Linked DNA regions of Homo sapiens. The protein of the gene in region 4 purifies or fractionates together with the protein of the main gene of each other region. This does not show direct contact. Each region holds a gene or a part of one and is shown on either strand. Other genes may lie near its edges.

The links.
Region 1: the proteins of SYDE2 (region 4) and PPP1R12A purify together in Homo sapiens (affinity purification with mass spectrometry; one large-scale study listed by BioGRID and IntAct). This does not show direct contact.
Region 2: the proteins of SYDE2 (region 4) and P4HA3 purify together in Homo sapiens (co-immunoprecipitation; one large-scale study listed by IntAct). This does not show direct contact.
Region 3: the proteins of SYDE2 (region 4) and CALD1 purify together in Homo sapiens (affinity purification with mass spectrometry, with the first as the bait; one large-scale study listed by BioGRID). This does not show direct contact.
Region 5: the proteins of SYDE2 (region 4) and DLAT purify together in Homo sapiens (affinity purification with mass spectrometry, with the first as the bait; one large-scale study listed by BioGRID). This does not show direct contact.
Region 6: the proteins of SYDE2 (region 4) and FIP1L1 purify together in Homo sapiens (affinity purification with mass spectrometry; one large-scale study listed by BioGRID and IntAct). This does not show direct contact.
Region 7: the proteins of SYDE2 (region 4) and DSG1 purify together in Homo sapiens (affinity purification with mass spectrometry, with the first as the bait; one large-scale study listed by BioGRID). This does not show direct contact.

What each region holds. Positions count from the first base shown.
Region 1 is NC_000012.12:79,809,598-79,813,097, forward strand, and holds part of PPP1R12A (protein phosphatase 1 regulatory subunit 12A), read right to left. Parts: intron 414-3,500; coding exon 198-413; intron 1-197. UniProt on the Homo sapiens protein: Key regulator of protein phosphatase 1C (PPP1C). Mediates binding to myosin. As part of the PPP1C complex, involved in dephosphorylation of PLK1. Capable of inhibiting HIF1AN-dependent suppression of HIF1A activity.
Region 2 is NC_000011.10:74,280,641-74,284,140, reverse strand, and holds part of P4HA3 (prolyl 4-hydroxylase subunit alpha-3 isoform 1 precursor), read left to right. Parts: intron 1-3,500. UniProt on the Homo sapiens protein: Catalyzes the post-translational formation of 4-hydroxyproline in -Xaa-Pro-Gly- sequences in collagens and other proteins.
Region 3 is NC_000007.14:134,933,134-134,936,633, forward strand, and holds part of CALD1 (caldesmon), read left to right. Parts: coding exon 1-944; intron 945-2,554; coding exon 2,555-2,632; intron 2,633-3,500. UniProt on the Homo sapiens protein: Actin- and myosin-binding protein implicated in the regulation of actomyosin interactions in smooth muscle and nonmuscle cells (could act as a bridge between myosin and actin filaments).
Region 4 is NC_000001.11:85,198,217-85,202,307, forward strand, and holds the start of SYDE2 (rho GTPase-activating protein SYDE2), read right to left. Parts: upstream 2,801-4,091; 5' UTR 2,781-2,800; coding exon 2,036-2,780; intron 2,027-2,035; exon of another isoform or gene 1,935-2,026; intron 1,824-1,934; exon of another isoform or gene 1-1,823.
Region 5 is NC_000011.10:112,042,408-112,045,907, reverse strand, and holds part of DLAT (dihydrolipoyllysine-residue acetyltransferase component of pyruvate dehydrogenase complex, mitochondrial isoform 2 precursor), read right to left. Parts: intron 2,443-3,500; coding exon 2,375-2,442; intron 771-2,374; coding exon 678-770; intron 46-677; coding exon 1-45.
Region 6 is NC_000004.12:53,387,641-53,391,140, reverse strand, and holds part of FIP1L1 (pre-mRNA 3'-end-processing factor FIP1), read right to left. Parts: intron 1,333-3,500; coding exon 1,268-1,332; intron 621-1,267; coding exon 513-620; intron 133-512; coding exon 2-132; intron 1-1.
Region 7 is NC_000018.10:31,349,160-31,352,659, forward strand, and holds part of DSG1 (desmoglein-1 preproprotein), read left to right. Parts: intron 1-3,500. UniProt on the Homo sapiens protein: Component of intercellular desmosome junctions. Involved in the interaction of plaque proteins and intermediate filaments mediating cell-cell adhesion.

The DNA.
Region 1 (3,500 bases), on a different chromosome or scaffold from region 4:
ATGTTTTAGGCAAATACATCTGATCTTTCCAGTATTTATAATTCTGTATAAATTACATTTGTCTTATGTAATTCATTAAGGTTAATTAACTTGATACCTAGATCTAAAGATAACTAGCAGAAAATCTACCAGATTTGATGTTCCTGGAAAAGAAATCATAACAGTTTTCATAGAAACCAGACTGTGAAATAGATTACCTTTTCTTTATTATCCAAAGAGGAGGAAAGTCTGGGACTTGAAGCTGAACGTGTAACACCTGCAGTATCTTTTTCTTTCTGACCCTCTTTAGATGCTGTGATTTCAGCAAGTGCACCATAGCTGCCCGTCTTTCTAAGTCCTAACCTCCAAGTTGCAGGAGACTCATCTTTTCTCTCTTCTTCTTTGGGAGAAATTTTTGTAGCTGTGGTTGGAAACTGTGTTTATTTTATTTTTTAGGAAAAGAAAAAAGAATTTGTAAAGCTGATCAGTCCTTAAATTGGAAACAATAAGTTTACAGATAATATATTTAAAATTATGGTTTACAGTTTCAGGATAAAACACTTTTACTACATAGGTTAATGTCTTAGTAAAAAATGTAAAGATCTAAAAATTTTAAAGAAATAGACTACCTTCCTAGGGGTTAGACTTAAGAAAACACACTACACACTTTATATCACACAGAAAAATTATGATGCAAATACAGAAAACAGAAATGAGCACACCATAAGGACTTAAAACCATGCATCTTTGGAACCAATTTATATTAAACTTGTTATGTTGTAACCTAATATAAATTCTTGCACATAGAAATGCCTCACCATAGATTTTTCACCCTTACTGGGCACAAGAACAATGCCAGTTTTGCGCAAGCCCTGCCTCCATGATGCAGGATCTACTGATTCCACCACAGGCATGATAGGAGCAATGAAATCATACTAAAGCCAATTAAAATAAGACAGGTAAAGAGACAAAGATTGAAAGCATGAAAACAGAAAAGGGAAGTTATGAACAAAAAATATTTTCTTCATTTGAAAATAATTTTATAATTAACCCCAATAATTGGGTAATGATCCAATCTTTAAAAGTCACTGGGAACAAGTTCTAATTTTAGCATGAGATAATCTGAAAAAAATCTAATAAACTTCTAAAGCAATTAAAAGGCATACAGAGTAGATAATATAGCATGTGACTGAACAAACTACTGCACATGAATTTTGTTTTTAATCCATGTATATACTCTGGTTAAAAAATTTTGTGTCCAATATAATCAACAAAAACTAGTAACTGATATTTTTCCAATTATAATACTTTTTTTTTTAACATCACAGCCTTAAATTTACTGATTTCCCCACCAAACATTAACTATTTCAACTATAATAAAAACTAATTTTATGTACAAATATTTATGCTATTTTAAGGGCTTTCCAACAACCCTAAAAATGCAACCTCTGTTATCTTTAGATCACTTCATCAACTTCACTTCTAGAAATTCTATACTCAACCACAGTTAACTATATAGATTGGTGAATACAGCAACTAACTAGTTGCCACAAGCATAGGGTATTAATAATTTTTTAAAAATCATTTCTTTCATATCTATTGCCAACATTTGCTATAATTAGCAGGTTAACAGGGCTTGTTAAAGCCCCCATGATGATGCTTGAGGGCCACTTCATGGACAAAACTGTTATAAAGATATACCTCTGGTACTTCCAGTAATGAATTGCTATCAATAGTGTCTAAGCATTCCTCAGTTCCTAAAATGTGCACCAAAGTGCTCCAGAGTGTCACAACAAAATCACGGGGGCTCTGTAGAATATTTTAAAGTTTTGAGAGAAGCACAGTGACATCTCATAGACACTGCACAAACTGCCATTTTGATCACATTTCCATCAAACTACTTAATGAGACAAACAGGCAATTCCTTTTGCCAGTGGCACTGTGAAAAAATCCTACCAAACACTAGGGGCTCCAATGACCAAGAAAGTTTGCGAACTCTAATATTCTGTGCAATATGATAGGTACTGAGACAGCTGCTTATTGATTGGTGAGTTTACAGGGCTACACTGTAAATGCTAGGCTTTGTGGAACACAGATAATATTAATACACAAATGATTGAGTGTGGCTGTAACCAATAAAACTTTAGGGACAATGACTTTTTTTTATTTTTTTTCTCCAACCAGTTTGCTATACAAAAACAGGTAATGGGCTAGGTTTGGCCCACCAGCCATAGTTTGCCAACACCCACATTAGGTCTCCCACCTCCTCAAAAAACAGAAACAAAAAAACAAACAAAAAACCTGGAAACAAACGTTTTTTCCCCCATTATAAAACAGCCAGAGTCAGTCAGTCAGATAACATTTATTGTTATAAATGAAGCTAACATTTATTGTTATAAATGAAGCTAACATTTAACAAATATTTACTAGTGTGTGACCCTCAGCTAAGTGCTTCACATGGGTTATCCTGTTTCAACCTTATAATTACCCAATGAAATACTACTATTACTGTTATTTTAGAGTTGAGAAAAACGAGGCAGTACTATCTATCAATTTTGAAATGGGCATTTGTTACACTGTAATGGCTGATATACCTCCACTCTGCCCAACATGAACTTGGATTTAAGTACTGCTTTATATGTCTAAAAGCACCTTTTAATTTTACTTGATATATAAATAAACCCTTCCTGAAATACTTAACTATACCTCCTCCTCCATTAAACTCTCTTCTTTGGCTTTTTTTACTGGACACTATCTTCACCTTCTTTTTCTTTTTACTCTGACCATTCCTTTTCTTGACTGACTCTGTGTGTGCGTGTGTGTGTGTGTGTGTGTGTGTGTGTGTAACGTTCCTTATACAGGCTGTGTGTGTTTGTGTGTGTGTGTGTGTACAACTTTCCTTGTGCTAGCCCTTCCAGAGCCTGCTCTTGGATCTCTCATATTCTCTTTCTACTTTCTTCTCCTGGGGGGTTAGGAGGAGGGTCTTTACTTCCTCAGGCTAAATATTAATTGTAGTCAGCTTATTCTCAAATGTGTTATTCTCCAGTCCAGTCTCCTAAATTTCCAGTCCTAATTTTACCTGTCTATTCTAGGTAAAATTCTACCACACTATTCTAGAGTGGACAATCTAGAACTATAACTGAAAACTTGAAACTCAGTATGTCTAAAATAAAACACCTTTACTTCCAAACCATCTCTTCTTCAGTTCCCTAATTCTGTTAATGGCACTAAGTATATCTCTTCAATCTCCTATGTTTCAAACTTCACAATTATGTTAGACCTTCTCTGTCATTTTCCTCCATCCATAAATTAGAGGTCAAGTCTCTAAATCTCCTCTCCTTTATAAGCCCAGAGTCACTTCTCTAGTTCATATTCTTATCATTGTGGGCAACTTCAATGACTTTCTAATAAACCTTTTCTCAATAAGCCTCTCATCTTCAAATCTGTACACTGCTGTCAGAATAATATTCTATAAAGAATAATCCTCTCATGGCATTGTTCAAACATCTTCCACGACTACT
Region 2 (3,500 bases), on a different chromosome or scaffold from region 4:
ATTGTCTCAGAATTATTTCTGTCAAGCCAGACATTGTGCCCTTAACATGTGCAGTTCATCCAGGCAGCCATTAGTCATTCGTCAACAGAATAGAGCCCACTGTGTGCCAGACACTGGCCTGGGTGCTGGGCTTTTACAGTGAGATGAAGTATTGGTTCTTTCCTCTTGGAAACTTAGTGCACAATGGAGAAAAACAAATATTTACACTACACTATGATACATGCTATCATAGAGGTGTGGGCAGAGAGTTGTGCTATGCACATAAAAAAGCAAGGCTTCCTCTAAAGAAAAGGCAATTGGGTGAAGAAGAGATGGGGAAGGGAGGAAGAATCAGGGAAGGCTTCACTGTGGAGGTGACATCTATCAGAGAAAGAAGGTAGCAAAGGGTATTCCAGAAAGACAAAACAGTATGTGCAAGGGCCTGATATGTGGTATGTTCAGAGACTGGGCAGAAGCTTGGTGGCTGAAGTGTGCAAGGGATGGGGGCGAGAGGTGATAGGAAATGAAGCTAGATGTGAGACACCATTAGCAGATGCTATAAATGCCATGCCGGGGAGTTTGGATTTTATCCTGTAGGCAGCAGGAGAGCTGTTGGACAGTTTTAATGGGAGAGTTGCATGATCATGTCTGATTTTTAAGGAAGACTGTAACAGCAGACATGGATTGGAGGGAGAAGAGGGGCAATCATCATTTCATCTAAAAGCCCCTCCAGGAAAGTCTAGAATCTTTGCACAGAAGCTTTTTGAGATAATTAAGCCCCACTGGTGAATTGGAGCAAACAGGTTCAGCTTTGCAGTGAGCCAGCAGTAGTAGCTTTTGGCCAGCAGCTGCTTTTTCCTTATAACAGCCCTGTTGCCATGGTAACGGGAGAAGTGACCCACCCAGAGACGTTGATTTAAATGTTCATGGCCATGTCGTCCATTTAGCATGCACAGATCTTGGCACACTTCCTTCCCCTAGAAGTGTCTCTCTGGGGCTGCTGATGCCTGTCTGGTCTGTGGCTCTCCCAGGAATCAGCCCTGGACTGACATGGTAGTGGCTTCCCCATGGGAACTGAAGACAGATGCCTCAGTGGCTTGTGTTGAATATCTCTGCTTCCTAGTCACTGTCCCTTTCCCAAAGCACACTCACTCATCACTTCTCTCTCTCACCACATCCTGCCCATCTTTGAAGACTCAGTTGAAGCCCTGCACCTTCGCTGGGCCCGCTAGCCCTGATCATTCTGGCCTCCTTTGGTTCTTTTTCAGAGCACTTTTTGGAGCCATATACAATTACCTATTCCTCCTCTGAACTCTAAGCTTTTTCTCACTGGTTGTTTGGTACTTAATTTTTAAATGTATTCTGCCATTTATGTGTTGTTTGACATCACTGACAGTTTCCTGGGTCAGCATCCTGTCTCCCCAGTCAGACTGTAAACTAGCAGGCATCATCTTTCTGCAAATGCCTTGCCCCATGTTCTTCCCATTGCTGCCAGAGTAAATCTTTAAAAGGTCAGGTCTGACCACTCAAGCCCTTGCTGAAACTCTTCACTGGGTCACTTTTGCCTTTGAGTGCTTACAAGTCTCCATGGCCTGGCTGCTGCCAACCCCTTCTACCACATCTCCCCCGGCACTTGACGCTCCAGCTGCACACTCTTCTGTCTGCCTGGAACGAACTGCCCTTGACTTCTCACCTGTATGATTCCAGTGTGTCTTGTGGACATCCTGGAAAGACTCCCTGTCCCTCATAAGAATGGGCTATGTGTCCCTCTTTCTATTGCCATGGCATTCTATACTTGCCTATTATGGCCCCATTAGATGTCTTAGGGGCAGGGACATTGTCTGGATTAACATTGTTTTTCCAGTGCCTAGCACAGTGCTTAGCACAGAGAACAACCAATAAATATTTGTTCCAAAAAACGAGTGACTGGTAGGTAGACAATTAATGATTGTTACAGGAAATAAATATAAGGTGACTCCTTAATTTGGGATGGGGGGGATTCCTTAGGGTTTTTTTTTGTTTTTTTTTTTTAAACCATTGATTTTGCCCTAAAAGAACAGAAGGGAGCATCTCTCTTCTATGAGTTTCTCCTCTACAAATGGCTCAGGACAGGACACCAGGGACAATGGATGGAGGCAACATCAATCCCCTTCTGATTTCCTGCTTCCTAAGATTGTAGAGCCACATGTGAGAGGAACTCGCAAGCACATGTTGTTCATAAGCTGCATTTTATTTATTTTTTATTTTTTTGTCCCAAACTTTTATTATTATTATTATTATTATTATTATTATACTTTAAGTTTTAGGGTACATGTGCACATTGTGCAGGTTAGTTACATACGTATACATGTGCCATGCTGGTGCGCTGCACCCACTAACTCGTCATCTAGCATTAGGTATATCTCCCAATGCTATCCCTCCCACCTCCCTCCACCCCACAACAGTCCCCAGAGTATGATGTTCCCCTTCCTGTGTCCATGTGATCTCATTGTTCAATTCCCACCTATGAGTGAGAATATGTGGTGTTTGGTTTTTTGTTCTTGTGATAGCTTACTGAGAATGATGATTTCCAATTTCATCCATGTCCCTACAAAGGACATGAACTCATCATTTTTTATGGCTGCATAGTATTCCATGGTGTATATGTGCCACATTTTCTTAATCCAGTCTATCATTGTTGGACATTTAGGTTGGTTCCAAGTCTTTGCTATTGTGAATAATGCCGCAATAAACATACGTGTGCATGTGTCTTTATAGCAGCATGATTTGTAGTCCTTTGGGTATATACCCAGTAATGGGATGGCTGGGTCAAATGGTATTTCTAGTTCTAGATCCCTGAGGAATTGCCACACTGACTTCCACAATGGTTGAACTAGTTTACAGTCCCACCAACAGTGTAAAAGTGTTCCTATTTCTCCACATCCTCTCCAGCACCTGTTGTTTCCTGACTTTTTAATGATTGCCATTCTAACTGGTGTGAGATGGTAACTCATTGTGGTTTTGATTTGCATTTCTCTGATGGCCAGTAATGGTGAGCATTTTTTCATGTGTTTTTTGGCTGCATAAATGTCTTCTTTTGAGAAGTGTCTGTTCATGTCCTTCGCCCACTTTTTGATGGGGTTGTTTTTTTCTTGTAAATTTGTTTGAGTTCATTGTAGATTCTGGATATTAGCCCTTTGTCAGATGAGTAGGTTGCAAAAATTTTCTCCCATTTTGTAGGTTGCCTGTTCACTCTGATGGTAGTTTCTTTTGCTGTGCAGAATTTAGATGGGGAAACAGGCCCAAGGAAAGGAAGAGGCTTTTCCAAGACTGTCTATCTGGTTTAGCAGGAGGGACAATGACATTATGGAAGCTTCAGAGAAGGGAAAGAGCTTCTGTCTGTGTAGCTCATTGCCCCAGGCACTGCTCTGCCTGCCTGTGAAGCACCAGAGCTGGGTCTGAGCCCTGTGAGTACCTTTAAGGGCAGTGCCCTATTTCATTCATTTGTTTATTTAACCAGTACTAAGCACCTACTCCACCAC
Region 3 (3,500 bases), on a different chromosome or scaffold from region 4:
ACCCAACAATAACAGATGCAAGTCTGTCGCTCCCAAGCAGAAGAATGCAAAATGACACAGCAGAAAATGAAACTACCGAGAAGGAAGAAAAAAGTGAAAGTCGCCAAGAAAGATACGAGATAGAGGAAACAGAAACAGTCACCAAGTCCTACCAGAAGAATGATTGGAGGGATGCTGAAGAAAACAAGAAAGAAGACAAGGAAAAGGAGGAGGAGGAAGAGGAGAAGCCAAAGCGAGGGAGCATTGGAGAAAATCAGGTAGAGGTGATGGTGGAAGAGAAAACAACTGAAAGCCAGGAGGAAACAGTGGTAATGTCATTAAAAAATGGGCAGATCAGTTCAGAAGAGCCTAAACAAGAGGAGGAGAGGGAACAAGGTTCAGATGAGATTTCCCATCATGAAAAGATGGAAGAGGAAGACAAGGAAAGAGCTGAGGCAGAGAGGGCAAGGTTGGAAGCAGAAGAAAGAGAAAGAATTAAAGCCGAGCAAGACAAAAAGATAGCAGATGAACGAGCAAGAATTGAAGCAGAAGAAAAAGCAGCTGCCCAAGAAAGAGAAAGGAGAGAGGCAGAAGAGAGGGAAAGGATGAGGGAGGAAGAGAAAAGGGCAGCAGAGGAGAGGCAGAGGATAAAGGAGGAAGAGAAAAGGGCAGCAGAGGAGAGGCAGAGGATAAAGGAGGAAGAGAAAAGGGCAGCAGAGGAGAGGCAGAGGATAAAAGAGGAAGAGAAAAGGGCAGCAGAGGAGAGGCAAAGGGCCAGGGCAGAGGAGGAAGAGAAGGCTAAGGTAGAAGAGCAGAAACGTAACAAGCAGCTAGAAGAGAAAAAACATGCCATGCAAGAGACAAAGATAAAAGGGGAAAAGGTAGAACAGAAAATAGAAGGGAAATGGGTAAATGAAAAGAAAGCACAAGAAGATAAACTTCAGACAGCTGTCCTAAAGAAACAGGTACAGTAAACATTTTGCACCAAATGTGTGATGCCTGTGACTTGTGAGAAATGTAATGCACATCTGATTTGGGACTGAGGCCACATGCATATAGCTCACATGCTTGATCATTTGGCAAGCTGTTCATTTTTTCAGGCCATAGCGATACACAAGCATGCAGCAATTGATTGATGGCTGAATATTCAATCAACCAAATTTACTGGGACAGCCAGTAAATTTGGCTGTCCAGAAGACAGAGAGAAATTAATTGCTCTGTGCTTGATTGTTATGAATACCCAAAAAAAGAATTAATCCAAAGATGATAAATGTGGTGGTGGTGTGTTGGCTTCTGATTCTGTGCTTGCATCTAAACTCGTTCTTTTAATTATCTTTCCTCTATCCATAGGTCTGCATGAGGCAAGAGGCCCATAACTCCTTACCTCACTCATGGGTTTGACGTTGAATTAAAAAAATGATAAAAGCTGGGGTGGGAAAGAGACATGAAGAATAATGGTCAGACATTTCATCTTAAGAAGGCAAAAACAGGCTGGGTACAGTGGCTCACACCTGTAATCCCAGCACTTTGGGAGGCTGAGGTGGGTGGATCACAAGGTCAGGAGATCGAGACCATCCTGGCCAACATGGTGAAACCCCATCTCTACTAAAAATACAAAATTAGCTGGGTGTACCGGCACATGTCTGTAATCCCAGCTACTCAGGAGGCTGAGGCAGGAGAATCACTTGAACCTGGGAGGCAGAGGTTGCAATGAGCTGAGATTGTGCCACTGCACTCCACTGGGCAACAGGGAGAGACTCCATCTCAACAACAAAAACAACAACAACAACAAAAAGGCAAAAACAAACCCCTGGAAATTAACTGGTAATAAAGAGGGGGAAAGGAACTGGTTGGAAACTTTCCTTAAAAAAAAAAGTCAAAACCCTGATTTGCCAACATGTAGACCTCAGCTTAATGTAGACTTGCAGAAAGCCATTAATTTAGGGTAGTATTGATTTATATTTGACTGGTAATTAAGAGCATACATGCTGCTTCTTTATTATCTGGGTGACACAAATTCATGTGGCCTGAGGAAGGGTGGAAATAGTAGGGGGGAAATGTTTGTAAGCTTTGAGAAAGATTTTTTTTCTGTCTGCAAGACTGCATTGAAAGCACTGTACCTAATCACCACCACACCACCACCACCACTCCTAAAAAAAGAAAAAAAGAGATGCTTTCACATTCACCTTTCCAGAGCAAATTCTCTGTCACTAAGCCTGCATTGCACTGAAGGTATCTTTAACTCCTGCTTCTGTACAAGAGGCTCATGAACACAGCTAAAATTGAGACCATGAGCAAAGTGCACCAAACCACACACGAGGTTTGTAAACACACGAGGAGTGCCACATCATGCTAGATTTCAGTGAGCGCAATGGCAGGCACACGAGAAGATGTTGGGGTGGGAAGAAAATATCCCACCTTGCTGTTTAGAACCACTGTGCTGTGAGCGCTGAGACGGCAGAAGAGAAGCCATCCCACGCAGCACTTGCAAGGCGATCCGAGCACCCTGTCACTCTTGTAAACTAGAAAGGGCTTCTTTTACTTGTGTGACCTTACCATTCTTGAAAATAAAAAGGGAGAAGAGAAGGGAACTAAAGTGCAAGCTAAAAGAGAAAAGCTCCAAGAAGACAAGCCTACCTTCAAAAAAGAAGAGGTAAATATGATTGAAAAGTAATGATCGTAAAGCAACAGAAAAAGCAGTCAGTGTTCCAAGATATCTCAGGTCTGATGATCTCAAAATTGTAACCTCATATCCAGTGTATTTCAAGCCATGACTCACAGTCCACTGAATAGTGAGATCAGCTTAGAGTGTCTCAAAATTAATTAAATGTATCAGTCAGCATTTTTTAAAAAATGAAATGGATAGAAGCCATCAGAGGGCATTGTAGGTAGTAAGTATTGCATTGTCAGGTAAATTGTCTTTTTTTCTGTGGGACGTCATCAAAAAGGCTTGAAAAACACTGCTGGAATCAATTTATCCTGTTTTCTATTCTTCTGAATGCTAATTTTTTTTCCTTGAGCCATTCTACTTTCATTTCAATCATGAAATATTTCCAACTGGCCTTGATTAATGCTTTAACTTTTCAAAGGAAAAACACCCACACACATCTCAGTAGAAAATATGGTGAACTGAAGATGATATTTGGTTTTCAAAAGAAAAGTTTGGCCAAATGTTCTGCATTGCATTTCTGAGGCACACACAGGAGCGGGTGCCAGGGTATTTGACTGTAGGTAAGTGAACAAGGAGCTATACAGATAGAATGGCACGGGGTTTGACAGTAATCAGAACACCACATCAGAACACTTGATTGCACTTCAACTCTCATGCTGTGTTTGCCCCAAATAATCTTAAAAATTGTGACTATATCGAATAAGTTCACAATACTTATTAGGATGTGGTGAAACTGAATTATTTGAAGTAGGAAGACCCGAAGTTCTTCGCCTATGAGACTGGTGAAGTGATTTGTAGCCAACATGCTCCAACCCATCTATTAAGAAAACTATGGCATCTATTAAGAAAA
Region 4 (4,091 bases):
TGAGTGATCTTGGGCAAACTGCTTAATCCCTCTGTTCTTTTTCTTGTAGCTGTTGTTAAATGACAGCATATCTCCATTTTGGGGGCTATAAAAATTGTATGAGAACCACCTAATGTATCCAGAATGGACTTAGTAAGACCAACTAAACTTCATGAAAAATAATTTTTTTAAAAAGCTCTCCAAATCTATACTAGATATGTAAACACTGCACAAATTATTTTCATCTCTCCTGAAAAATGAATTAGTGGTTTAAAAGGAAGTAACATCTGAGAGTTGTTTAAACCAGAGATTATGGTAGCTTTGGCTTAGATTTCTCATAAAATATCTAAAATATTATCACATAATAATTGTTTCATTTTAATTTCTAAGTTAGCAGTTTCATTTAATTAGTTGCTTAATGCAAAAATCAAATTCATTCTTAAAGGAACTATATTTATTACTTTAAAAATCCTTGAATGTTTACTACTGAGGGCATTAAAAGCCATCACATGGTAAGTGTTTTAGCTCTGTGACAAAAGGGTGAAAAATATTTGACTATTTTTTGTTATGGCTGAAATTCAACTATGGTACCAAGAGTTAAAACTAAGCCAAAGGGGGGGAGGTAAAAATATTGTGGCAATAAAATATAATAAATGATTACAAATTACTCCTGGAAATGCATGTTTAATATGAACTTAGTATAAAGTACACCTCTCAACAAAGAATTTACATTCTATTATCCTTTTGTTCAAGTGAAATGGAATATTTAACCTTGAGAATAAAATTTGACAGGTGTGTATTAGAGCCGTATAGACAGGAAAAAACTTTGCAAGTTGGCACACACTTTGAATGAATCATTTGATTTGTCTTCATTGTTTGATAAGAAGTTTTGTGAACTTTGTTTCTCCCCACTGTTGTGTGTTTATTGGTTAAACAAAGTTAATGTGTATAAATCCAGTCCTGTAGGATTTATAATTACTACCAGAGAAACCGCCAAGTACTGTGAATACCTTTTACATTTCAGGATTTAATGTTTTCCAAATTATTCCTGACTTATAAGTCTTTATGATCACTAAAAATTTTTATATGTAAGAGTATTCAAAAGACCATGTTGTTTTGGCTCACTTTGAAGATATTATACTCCTTTCAGGAAAGATATTTTGATATTTACAACATAATTGACTGGTTTCTAGAATTGATAACCTAAACCTTCAGTGATAGTTAAAAATCATGCACATACAAAATAGGGAGCTTAATCCTATTATAAGGATCAATATACTTTTTAAAAAACTAATTTACTTCTCTTATAAATAGGATTTAAGTTTGCAAATGACTGCTTTAAAAACAAAACTACCTGAGGAACATTTTTCTTTTGATTAAAATGTTAGTGTCCTTGATTTTTCACAATAAAAAGATTACTTTGTTGAGGTTTCTTTGTCGGGGGGAGGCAGGTGGAGAGATGGTGTATGTGAAATACTACCTGACTAAAAAATTCTACTTATGGTAGGGTTTTTTTTGTTTGATTTGTTTGGGTTTTTGGTTGTGTGTATGTATGCATGTGTGTGCGTGCCTGGGAGAGGCAAAAAAAAAAAGTTGTAATGAGTAAAATGACAGTTTATGAAGCCTATAAAATCTACCTTGAATCAAATTCAAATTTACAAACTCCACAAAAGTCTACGGATTTGCCTAGAGCTACAAAGAATAAAAATCAAGACAGTGCCGCCCATCTGTAAACCTACTAAAAGTGTGTTATACTTAACCTTTACTCCTTTAGGTAATACTTAGGGAATAGACACACTGGTTTTTCGAGAAGAAATCACAACCTCAATTCTTCATGCCATTGTCTGATTAAAAAGAAAAAAAAAAGCAAAACGAGTAAATGCATTACATTAAGTAACCCCGAAATTACTTTAAGCTGCCACTTACATGACACTTACTTTCGCCCGGTAACGTACCTGTCGCAAAAACATAACTTTTTCTTGGCTCTTAAGACAGAAGCCCAGTCGGTAAACAGTAAGGCTCGCGGTGCTAGCATTTTCATCGCAAAGTATCCTACCTGTCAGCGTAATTCTTTGGTCTGGAGGCACCGACAGGACACGGTTTTCACGCACTTTCAAAGCGCCCACATTTGGGGAGGCTGCCTGCGTTCCTGTGACTTTGGGAGCCGTCCCACGGGCACGACCCTTCATTCCCAGGGACAGCAGACGCCCTTTGTACATCCACTTCTGCAGCTTCTTGACTGTCACTGCCGGCGGCCTGAGGAAGGAGGGGCCTTCCTGGCGGTCTCCTTTGCCACTGCGTATCACAGAGGACCCCGCTGGATCCCTGAAAGGGCTTCCCGAGGAGCAGCCGTGGTCCTTGCAGCCTGGAGGCTGGAGGCCGGTGGGTGCAGCCGCCCGGGCGCGGTCCCCACTCCAGCCGTCCATCCTGCCTCCACGTGGCGGGGGCTCGTCCCAGTCCCGGTGCGCGCCGCACCTGATCCAGCTGTCGCTCGGCCACCGCTGGAAGGGAGGCGGCTTGGCACCCACCCGGAGGCTCTCGAGGCTTCTGCTGCAGGACGGCCGCATCCGAGGAGTCCGCAGCTGGCCTCCCCGCGGCTCCCTCTGAGGCGACCGGGGCGGGGACACCTGCTGCCGAGGGCGTCCGCCGCCTCCCCGCTCCCCGTCCCGGGGGCAGGCTCGGCGGTACGCGGCGCCGCGGGAAGGCGGCTGGCCCGGAGCCCGGGCTCCCGCGGGGAAGCTGTGATCCGCCAAGCCCCTGCCGCCCCGCCGCGCGCCCGAGTCAGGGGGCAGGTCGTGCATGGCCTGGATCAGCAGATAATAGGCCTCTCGCAACTGGGTCCGCAGCCTGCCTGTCTCCAGGCGGCCGCCCTCCGCCCCCAGGGAGGAGCCCGCCGCTGGGGGAGGCGGGGGACGCCGTTCCGCCTCCGCCCCCTCAGGCTCGGGCGCAGACTGCGAGCCGCCGGGCAGGTTTTCGTAGTAGTCGGCGTCGTAGTCGTCTTCGTCCTTGTCGTCTTCCTCCTCCTCTCCGCTGTCCTCGGAGCCCTCCGGGGAGTGCGGAGGGGCGTGAGCGAGCCCATGGCTCTGGGGGGCGGCCTCCTGCCCGCCGCGCGGCCGAGGCCCGAGCGCCCCCAACTGCTCCGGGTGCCCTCCGGGGACCCGCGCCCCGGGACCCCACGCCTCAGGTGACGGCGAGGGCTGCTGTAGGCTCCGCCCGTGTCCCCCGGCGTGCTCACGTGGGAGGGTGTCTGCGGCACCCCAGGCGTCTCCCGCGGCTGCCGAAGAGGCCGCCACCGCAGCTGCGGCTGCCGCCCGGAGCCCTAGCCCCCCGGTGCCGCGGGGACCCCGCCTTCCCCGGAGCCTGGACAGCGTCCTCCTCAGAGGGTCCGCCATCCCCTCTGCCTTAGCCGCGAGGCTCACCCCCGCCAGGGGGAGAGGTCGGAGCCCCGCTGGGGAGAAAACCGCGCTCGCGGAGGCGGAGGCGGAGGCGGCGGCGGCTCCCCATGACCGGCGCTGGCCCTCGCCGGCTCCTCACATACTTGGCATAACTCTGCCGCGGGAAGGCGTGGGGGAGGGCGGTGGCGCCGCAACGCGCATGCCCCGGAGCCCCGGGCCGCGACGGGGCGCGCGGGCCGGGGGCGGCAGAGGTGGGTTCTCGGGGTGGGCGAGTGGTGCAGGTGGAGGCGGAGGGCGCGGGCCGGTAGGTTGAGTAGTAGGTCGGCTGAAGCTGACCGACGGAAGCAGGGGTGGGCGCACAGAGCGCGAAGGGTGCGGGGAGAGTTGAGGCAGGGGAAAGAAGAACGAGCAGGAACGTGAGTTTGGGCTGGTGGCTGCAAAGTTTTGGTTAGGGAGCCCGAGAAAGGGAAAGTGCCCTCCTGGCTGTCACCCCAGCACCTTCACCGCCACCGCTGCACGAGGTGTGTCTTAGGCACAGCAAGTCCTAGCTTGAGAGAAAACAAAGATTGTTTTGACGGACAAAGTACGAGTGCAGGTGTATCTCGGTGCATGTGTTCTAGAAATGTATCAATCATTTTAATCGCCCAGAGAGCTAGCTAGCTAAAAGAAATTTGCAGCGATTCCTTTTCTATAAGAGTTCTTTTATCAAAAACAAAA
Region 5 (3,500 bases), on a different chromosome or scaffold from region 4:
ATGAGGTATGGTTTGCTTTGATTGCATTAATCGCTGTGCAATAACCTGAAACCAAAGAGATTTAAAAAATCAATTATCTTGAGTTAAGACCTTAACTAATTTAGGGCTCTGTTTGTCTCTTCACCTTACTCTCTGCTAATACTTACCTCAAGCATTATTATAATTGAAAGATGGAGGACTCCGCCATAATATAACACCTCCTAGATTTTTTTTTTTTTTTGAGATGGAGTCTCGCTATGTTGCCCAGGCTGGAGTGCGGTGGTGCGATCTCGGCTCACCACAACCTCCATTTCCCAAGTTCAAGCAATTCTCCTGCCTCAGCGTCCCGAGTACTTGGGACTACAGGCATGTGCCACCATGCCCGGCTAATTTTTGTATCTTTAGTAGAGACGGGGTGTTTCACTATGTTGGCCAGGCTGGTCTCGAAGTCTGGACCTTGTGATCTGCCCGCTTTGGCCTCCCAAAGTGCTGGGATTACAGGCATGAGCTACTGCGCCTGGCCCTTCTAATAGGAACAAAGTGATTCAAGTATTCAGTTGGCCAAAACTTCCCTTAAAGTAATCATCCAATATTCCCAACTTAAAAAGCCTCTGTTAATGTGTTAAAAACTATGGAAGCAACTAAACAACCTAAAGATGCCCCTAACAGCTGATTCCAGATGATGGTAATTCTCTTACCCGACGAATGTTGCTGATTGGGATATCTGTGAAGACACCTGTAGGAACTGGTGCCATTCCAGGACCTGTGGGAGGCACAACAGCTGCCGGAGCCTATGGGAGGAAAGAAAAAGCTCTTAGTAACTGTGATTCAATCTTAGCGTAAGTACCTGGGAAAGACTGCCAGTGACTATGCAGTTTTTTTTTTTTGTCTTTTGAGACAGAGTCTTGCTCTGTCACCCAGGCTAGAATGCAGTGGCTCAATCATGGTTCACTGCAGCCTCAACCTCCTGGGCTCAAGCAATCCTCCCATCTCAGCCCCTAGAGTAGCTGGGACTACAGGTGCACGCCAACATGCCCAGCTAATTTTTTTGGATTTCTAGTAGAGACGGAAATTAGCCACGTTGCCCTGGCTGGTCTCAAATGCCTGGGCTCAAGTGATCCACCCACCTTGGCTTCCCAAAGTGCTGGGGTTACAAGCATGAGCCACCATGTCCAGTCTAAAAACTAAGCTTTATAGAATACCTATTTCTGTCCCCAGTGAGCAAAAGAGACTTCTGCTTGTTTTAAGAGTTTTAATTTTTTTACTTAGAATTCTGAAGTCATGTTTTAAGTGTCATTTTTCTTTGTATCAGAGTATGTTCAATGACCAGTTTGTGTCAAAATAATTTTGTTTTTGCAAAATTATGTTCAAGAAAAGCAATGGAAGCATTCTTAAGTTGCAAGGAATAATAAATAAGTATAAACAAGCTAATCCATTATCCTAAACAATGTTAAGAAAAGGGGGTTGGGAGGCTCACTTGAGCCTCACAATGACTCACTTGAGGCCAGGAGTTCGTGACCAGGCTGGCCAACATGGCGAAACCCTGTCTCTACTAAACATACGAAAATTAGCCAGGTGTGATGGCATGCACCTGTAGTCCCAGCCACCTGGGAGGCTGGGGCATGAGAATCGCCTGAATCCAGGAGGCAGAGGTTGCAATGAGCCAAGATCGCGCCACTGCACTCCAGCCTGGGCGACAGAGTGAGACTGTCTCAAAAACAAACAAACAAAAAAAACCAAACACCAAAAACAACTCATTCAACTGTACTTTAAAATATTTTGAAAAAGAAAAAAAGAACAAATCTTTTATTTCAAAGCAAAAACCGATTAACTAGCTCAAAACATAATGTGGAATACATGTCAATGTAGTATATCATCTTTGATCTTGTATATAAATGATAGCACACAAATATCTAAATACACTTGGCCCTCCATATCCATAAGTTCTGCATCACTGGATTCAACCAAAGGCAAATCAAAAATATTCCAGAAAAAAACAGATGGTTGCATCTGAACTGCACAAGTACAGACTTTTTGTCCTTATTATTATTTCCTAAGCAATAAAATATAACAACTATTTACATAGTATTTACCTTGTATTTAATATTATAAGTAATCTAGAGATGATTTAAAGTATTTGAGAGGATGTGGGTAAGTTATATACAAATACTACACTATTTTATATAAGAGACTTAAGCATTTGCGAATTTTGGTATACAAGGGGGCTCCTGGAACCAACCTCTCATGGGTACCGAGGGATGACTGTATTATTAAACCACTGAAATTAGAAGAAAACAATCTTGGTTGAGCTATTTCGTTCATAAATAATGTATGAAATGGTCTAACAGGCTGTAGAGACAAACTGCAAAAAAAGTAAGAGCTACACATAACTCACAGGAGCAACTTTACTAGGCACAAAAGAGTCGATATCCTTCTTGGTGATTCTACCATCTGGTCCTGTCCCTGTAAGAGACATAAATATCACATACATGATGACATACCATTGGTTCCCCAAGGAGATCAACGCTGTGATCCTAAACTGCAAGCTCCTAAGGGTTTACTACCAAAAACATTCTGAAAGGTTCACAGCCTTAACCCTACCCCTTAAGGTGCTACCTACAAATACCAGCTTTTGTCAACTATTAATTTTAATCCACACAGAGTACCAGTGTGTGATCTGGAGTGGGTCTTTTCTTTTTAACTACTGCAAATATTCCTTTATGTATTTCTCTTTTAGAGTTTTATCCAAGTTGTACTTAATTTTTTTCATCTTCCTTACTTTTAAATTGGGAAATGTGGCATAAGGATAATGCCGAGCACAGTTTATATCTCCAAAAGGGAAACTAGCTGCCTCCTCCTGGTTAGCTCCAAAAAACCATTCCTAAGCCGTGAAATAGATTTCATTTGGGTTCTGGATTTATGTGACCATAAAGAATTCCTTTTATACAGAATTTACAGGTATAACAATAATTGTTTTGACAAATCAAGTCGATTTTTTCACCCCAAAATAGCACGAATAACTCTTTACTGCAATTATCTTATCTTTAGAATCATTCATTCCTTATGTGGTCTCTATGACTCATAGCTTTTTCACAGTAGCCAAGGCTCTAAACTGGCCCGTGTTAAAGGAAATGAAGGAAAAAGGTGCAATGTCACACATGAGGAAGGATCTTCAAAGTTCTCTCAGTAGGTTTAATTTTACTTATATTCAATTTCCTCCCTCCTCCCACCTACAGCCTCTTAGGTTTAATTTTGGACCCAAGTAGATAATCTTGACCTTTAATTCTACGGAGATTCAGAATTTAGTTATTATTATAGAATACCTTTTACACTGGCCCACTTCTAGGAAAAATTTGGTCAAACTGATTCATCTTCCCCCAAGGCAGACTTTAAAAAGGACTCTTGTTGTGTGTAGTTCTTCCCAATTCCTTTCCTTCATTACGAAAACTGAGTTGGCTAGGATTGTATTTATCCTCACTAGGAGCTCTAGAACAGAGGTGGTAGTACCCCTATTAGATTTC
Region 6 (3,500 bases), on a different chromosome or scaffold from region 4:
CCGTAATTTTATTTGTAGTAGAGGTTACTGGTATAACTTCAAGTCCCATTCGTATCCTCTTTTGTTTTTCACAGTAAGCTTTCCAGGTATCTTCATTAAACCCATAATTAAAATAATCAGAAAGATCAGCACCTAAAGATAAAACACAACTTTAGTGTACAAATATTTCAGCTCTATTTTTATGCAGCATCAAAAATATACTAAACTATAAAAATATAAATTTAGAGTTCTATCAGTTATCACTCTATCATTTATGGTGGCAAAAAGACTATATCATTTTTGATCAAATTATTCCCTTTACAAACGCCATTATAATAAACAATAAGTCTACATTTTAAGTAATACAAGGCCACCAGTAAGATTTAATAATCCCAAGTCATTATTACTCATCATTTGCTTAAGACAATTAAAATTATAATGAAAAAATAAAATTCTAAATTGATGTTCAAAAAAATTTTCTGATGACTTCACACTGAAAATATTGAAATTAATATAATCCACAATAATCTTACCAGGTTTACGCCATGGTTTATCTTCAAAAGAATCCAAATCTACCTCTAAGAGTGGAACTCCATTAATGCTTCCAGGTGCATCAAGGTCTACTCCTTTGACTTTTGTCCCTGTTTTATAAAATTACAAAATGAAGGAGCTATACTTGCAAGAAGCCAGGCGATACCATAGACAAACAGAAAATATAAACACCTTTTTACTATTCCTGGCACATATACACACACAAACAGAAAACAAACATCTTTTTACTATTCCTGGCAAAAAACCTGGCAAGGGTTCCAAACAAAGCAGAGCCTAAAATACGTGCTACTGGACTCTTGCCAGAAAAACTTTACCAGTCTCTGTGATGTACGGTCAAAAATTACTCTTTAAAAAGAGCTATTATCACCTTGGCCGGGCGCAGTGGCTCACACATGGAATCCCAACACTCTGGGAGGCCAAGGCAGGTAGATCACTTAAGCTCGAAAGTTCAAGAGCAGCCTGAACAACATGGTGAGACCTGGTCTCTACATAAAAATACAAAAATTGGCCAAGCATGGTGGTGCACGCCCGCAGTCCCAGCTACTTGAGAAGGTGAAGTGGGAGGATGGTTTGAGCCCAGGAGACGGAGGTTGCAGTGAACTAAGATTGCGCCACTGTACTCCAGCCTGAGTGACAGAGCCAGACTCTGTCCCCGACTAAAAAAAAAAGCTATTAAGACCTATTTAAGATATGTGCCTTATTTCCCTATTGATGCAACAGAAAATACAAATTTTACCTGTAGTTCCATAAACTCTTCCCCCTGTCTTGATGTTAAGATTTACAGGTGCTGTACCATAACTCCTAAAAACAAACAAACAAAAAAAAACAGAAATTATCCTGAAAAGCTTAAACAAAACAGTAATATATTCCATTTGTACAAACAAATTATACAATCACATAGTAAATGGATAGTGTGACACACATTTTATTTCTATCTTTATTTTTTAAATTTTGTATAGATGAGATCTCATACCATGTTGTCCAGGCTGGTCTCGAACTCCAGAGCTCAAGCAATCCTCCCACCTTGGCTTCCCAAAATGCTGAGATTACAAGAGTGAGCCACCGTGCCCAGCTAACACATATTTTAAAAAACATTTTAAACTGATTTTTAAAGTCACTTGCTCAATAAAAGGCAAAAACAGTAAAAAAAAAAAGCCTGACTTGTTTCCATTTCAAAAACCTTTTTGCCAATAACTCAACATTCTACTGTAACAAACTTCACAAGAAATAAGGCTAAGAAGGGAAAAATAGTTTACACCCCTTGTCTTCATTTCCTTGCCTCCCAGTTATTAAATATACAGCACTCTTAAGCATAAGTAAAATTCCTCCAACTTGTTGTCAAATCTAGTGGCCTTTCAGTTCTTCTTGCATTTGATATTGTTAATAAATCCTTTTTCAACTATTCATGGAGTACTCAGTCCATAACAGAAATTTATTGACAAGAAATTCAAAAATAAGTCTAGCATGAAAGCAGAACAGTGTTTGCCGGTGGTGGGTGGTTAATGACCAAGAGGCAAAATGAGAGAAACTTCTAGGATGCCAATTATGTTTCATATCTTGATCTGGCTGTAGTTACATGAATGTATATATTTGAAAAAATATTAAGCTGCACCTTTTTAGATGTAATATAATACACAGTGATAAAGAAAAAAATATCTGAAGTTGGACCAACCCACATTCAAATGTTTTGTCAATTGCTAGTTGTGTAATCTTGGCCAAAACACCTAAGACTTGTATACAATTATTTGAATAATTCATTGCATTTTTACTTGTATAAATGAGCCTTGTATACATTTTCTGTAATACGGGGTTACAGACAGTTCTTTACTTCTTTATATAATGGATTCTTATATATGAGTAGTATTATCAAATATACTAATTAAAAGAGACTTTTCTGTTACTAGGGAAGTTAGAAGAAAACGGGAATGGGCAAAGAAGGACCAACTCCCACTGAACAAAAACATATCAGTAAGACGGCCGGGCACGGCGGCTCACGCCTGTAATCCCAGCACTTTGGGAGGCCGAGGCGGGTGGATCACGAGGTCAGGAGATCAAGACCATCCTGGCTAACACCATGAAACCCCGTCTCCACTAAAAAATAGAAAAAACTAGCCAGGCATGGGGGTGGGCGCCTGTAATCCCAGCTACTCAGGAGGCTGAGGCATGAGAATGGCGTGAACCCAGGAGGCGGAGCTTGCAGTGAGATCGCGCCACTGCACTCCAGCCTGGGCAAAAGAGCGAGACTCTATCTCAAAAAAAAAAAAAGATATCAGTAAGACCTCAAGTCACAGATGTTTATAATGATATATTTCTCACATTATATTCATGTTATATATTTGGTTCTTTTCTCTCAGAACTTCAGCCATCTGGACTTCAGATTCACTGCTTTGGGTCTAATAATAATTACTTCCATCTTTTGTCTCTGATGTACTACATTTAAGACTTAGGTTTAGTTACATTTGCACTGTCACTTTTCTTTTCTACTTAAAAAAGAAAAATGTAAATTCAATAAAATGTTTAATTGTATCAAATAACTGTAGCTCCACAGCTAGAAATGCAAAAATTACAAAGTGGACCAAATATTACTACTGTCAAGCAGTACTATCGTCACCAACTTGAAATAATCATTTCATAGGCTGATTAATTCATGTAATGCTTACTGAGCACCAAACCATGTCAAGTATGGTTCTAGGCTGAGGAAAAAGTATGAGGAGCTGGACAATTACGGTTCCTGCCTTCACGATGTTTACATTTTAACAATCCAAATTCAGAAAAAGTGACTTAGCGGTATCTACATATGATGTACATGATTTTTCTACAAATGTACAAAAATCAAGGATTTTCTCTAAACTGTTCTCTTACAGGACCGTATAGAATAAAACAGTATTTTTATAAAAGGCTTAGCCACAAGTGTTCAATAAATGAGCTTCTTCGCTTTCCACCTAGCTACTTTCTATTCCCCATTCTGC
Region 7 (3,500 bases), on a different chromosome or scaffold from region 4:
ATCCAGTTTCACCTTTCTACATATGGCTAGCCAGTTTTCCCAGCACCATTTATTAAATAGGGAATCCTTTCCCCATTGCTTGTTTTTCTCAGGTTTGTCAAAGATCAGATAGTTGTAGATATGCGGTGTTATTTCTGAGGGCTCTGTTCTGTTCCATTGATCTATATCTCTGTTTTGGTACCAGTACCATGCTGTTTTGGTTACTGTAGCCTTATAGTATAGTTTGAAGTCAGGTAGTGTGATGCCTCCAGCTTTGTTCTTTTGGCTTAGGATTGACGTGGCGATGCGGGCTCCTTTTTTGGTTCCATATGAACTTTAAAGTAGTTTTTTCCAATTCTGTGAAGAAAGTCATTGGTAGCTTGATGGGGATGGCATTGAATCTGTAAATTACCTTGGGCAGTATGGCCATTTTCACGATATTGATTCTTCCTACCCATGAGCATGGAATGTTCTTCCATTTGTTTGTGTCCTCTTTTATTTCCTTGAGCAGTGGTTTGTAGTTCTCCTTGAAGAGGTCCTTCACATCCCTTGTAAGTTGGATTCCTAGGTATTTTATTCTCTTTGAAGCAATTGTGAATGGGAGTTCACTCATGATTTGTCTCTCTGTTTGTCTGTTGTTGGTGTATAAGAATGCTTGTGATTTTTATACATTGATTTTGTATCCTGAGACTTTGCTGAAGTTGCTTATCAGCTTAAGGAGATTTTGGGCTGAGACAATGGGGTTTTCTAGATATACAATCATGTCGTCTGCAAACAGGGACAATTTGACTTCCTCTTTTCCTAATTGAATACCCTTTATTTCCTTCTCCTGCCTAATTGCCCTGGCCAGAACTTCCAACACTATGTTGAATAGGAGTGGTGAGAGAGGGCATCCCTGTCTTGTGCCAGTTTTCAAAGGGAATGCTTCCAGTTTTTGCCCATTCAGTATGATACTGGCTGTGGGTTTGTCATAGATAGCTCTTATTATTTTGAAATACGTCCCATCAATACCTAATTTATTGAGAGTTTTTAGCATGAAGGGTTGTTGAATTTTGTCAAAGGCTTTTTCTGCATCTATTGAGATAATCATGTGGTTTTTGTCTTTGGCTCTATTTATATGCTGGATTACATTTATTGATTTGCGTATATTGAACCAGCCTTGCATCCCAGGGATGAAGCCCACTTGATCATGGTGGATAAGCTTTTTGATGTGCTGCTGGATTCGTTTTGCCAGTATTTTATTGAGGATTTTTGCATCAATGTTCATCAAGGATATTGGTCTAAAATTCTCTTTTTTTGTTGTGTCTCTGCCTGGCTTTGGTATCAGAATGATGCTGGCCTCATAAAATGAGTTAGGGAGGATTCTCTCTTTTTCTATTGATTGGAATAGTTTCAGAAGGAATGGTACCAGTTCCTCCTTGTACCTCTGGTAGAATTCGGCTGTGAATCCATCTGGTCCTGGACTCTTTTTGATTGGTAAGCTATTGATTATTGCCACAATTTCAGCTCCTGTTATTGGTCTATTCAGAGATTCAACTTCTACCTGGTTTAGTCTTGGGAGAGTGTATGTGTCCAAGAATTTATCCATTTCTTCTAGATTTTCTAGTTTATTTGCGTAGAGGTGTTTGTAGTATTCTCTGATGGTAGTTTGTATTTCTGTGGGATCAGTGGTGATATCCCCTTTATCATTTTTTATTGCATCTATTTGATTCTTCTCTCTTTTTTTCTTTATTAGTCTTGCTAGCAGTCTATCAATTTTGTTGACCCTTTCAAAAAACCAGTTCCTGGATTCATTAATTTTTTGAAGGGTTTTTTGTGTCTCTATTTCCTTCAGTTCTGCTCTGATCTTAGTTATTTCTTGCCTTCTGCTAGCTTTTGAATGTGTTTGCTCTTGCTTTTCTAGTTCTTTTAATTGTGATGTTAGGGTGTCAATTTGGGATCTTTCCTGCTTTCTCTTGTGGGCATTTAGTGCTATAAATTTCCCTCTACACACTGCTTTGAATGCGTCCCAGAGATTCTGGTATGTTGTGTCTTTGTTCTCGTTGGTTTCAAAGAACATCTTTATTTCTGCCTTCATTTCGTTATGTACCCAGTAGTCATTCAGGAGCAGGTTGTTCAGTTTCCATGTAGTTGAGCGGTTTTAAGTGAGATTCTTAATCCTGAGTTCTAGTTTGATTGCACTGTGGTCTGAGAGATAGTTTGTTATAATTTCCGTTCTTTTACATTTGCTGAGGAGAGCTTTACTTCCCAGTATGTGGTCAATTTTGGAATAGGTGTGGTGTGGTGCTGAAAAAAATGTATATTCTGTTGATTTGGGGTGGAGAGTTCTGTAGATGTCTATTAGGTCCGCCTGGTGCAGAGCTGAGTTCAATTCCTGGGTATCCTTGTTGACTTTCTGTCTCGTTGATCTGTCTAATGTTGACAGTGGGGTGTTAAAGTCTCCCATTATTAATGTGTGGGAGTCTAAGTCTCTTTGTAGGTCACTCAGGATTTGCTTTATGAATCTTGGTGCTCCTGTATTGGGTGCATATATATTTAGGATAGTTAGCTCTTCTTGTTGAATTGATCCCTTTACCATTATGTAATGGCCTTCTTTGTCTCTTTTGATCTTTGTTGGTTTAAAGTCTGTTTTATCAGAGACTAGGATTGCAACCCCTGCCTTTTTTTGTTTTCCATTGGCTGGGTAGATCTTCCTCCACCCTTTTATTTTGAGCCTATGTGTGTCTCTGCACGTGAGATGGGTTTCCTGAATACAGCACACTGATGGGTCTTGACTCTTTATCCAATTTGCCAGTCTGTGTCTTTTAATTGGAGCATTTAGTCCATTTACATTTAAAGTTAATATTGCTATGTGTGAATTTGATCCTGTCATGATGATGTTAGCTGGTTATTTTGCTCGTTAGTTGATGCAGTTTCTTCCTAGTCTCGATGGTCTTTACATTTTGGCATGATTTTGCAGCAGCTGGTACCGGTTGTTCCTTTCCATGTTTAGTGCTTCCTTCAGGAGCTCTTGTAAGGCAGGCCTGGTGGTGACAAAATCTCTCAGCATTTGCTTGTCTGTAAAGGATTTTATTTCTCCTTCACTTATGAAGCTTAGTTTGGCTGGATATGAAATTCTGGGTTGAAAATTCTTTCCTTTAAGAATGTTGAATATTGGCCCCCACTCTCTTCTGGCTTGTAGGGTTTCTGCTGAGAGATCTGCTGTTAGTCTGATGGGCTTCCCTTTGAGGGTAACCCGACCTTTCTCTCTGGCTGCCCTTAACATTTTTTCCTTCATTTCAACTTTGGTGAATCTGACAATTATGTGTCTTGGAGTTGCTCTTCTCGAGGAGTATCTTTGTGGCATTCTCTGTATTTTCTGAATCTGAACGTTGGCCTGCCTTGCTAGATTGGGGAAGTTCTCCTGGATAATATCCTACAGAGTGTTTTCCAACTTGGTTCCATTCTCCCCATCACTTTTAGGTACACCAATCAGACGTAGATTTGGTCTTTTCACATAGTCCCATATTTCTTGGAGGCTT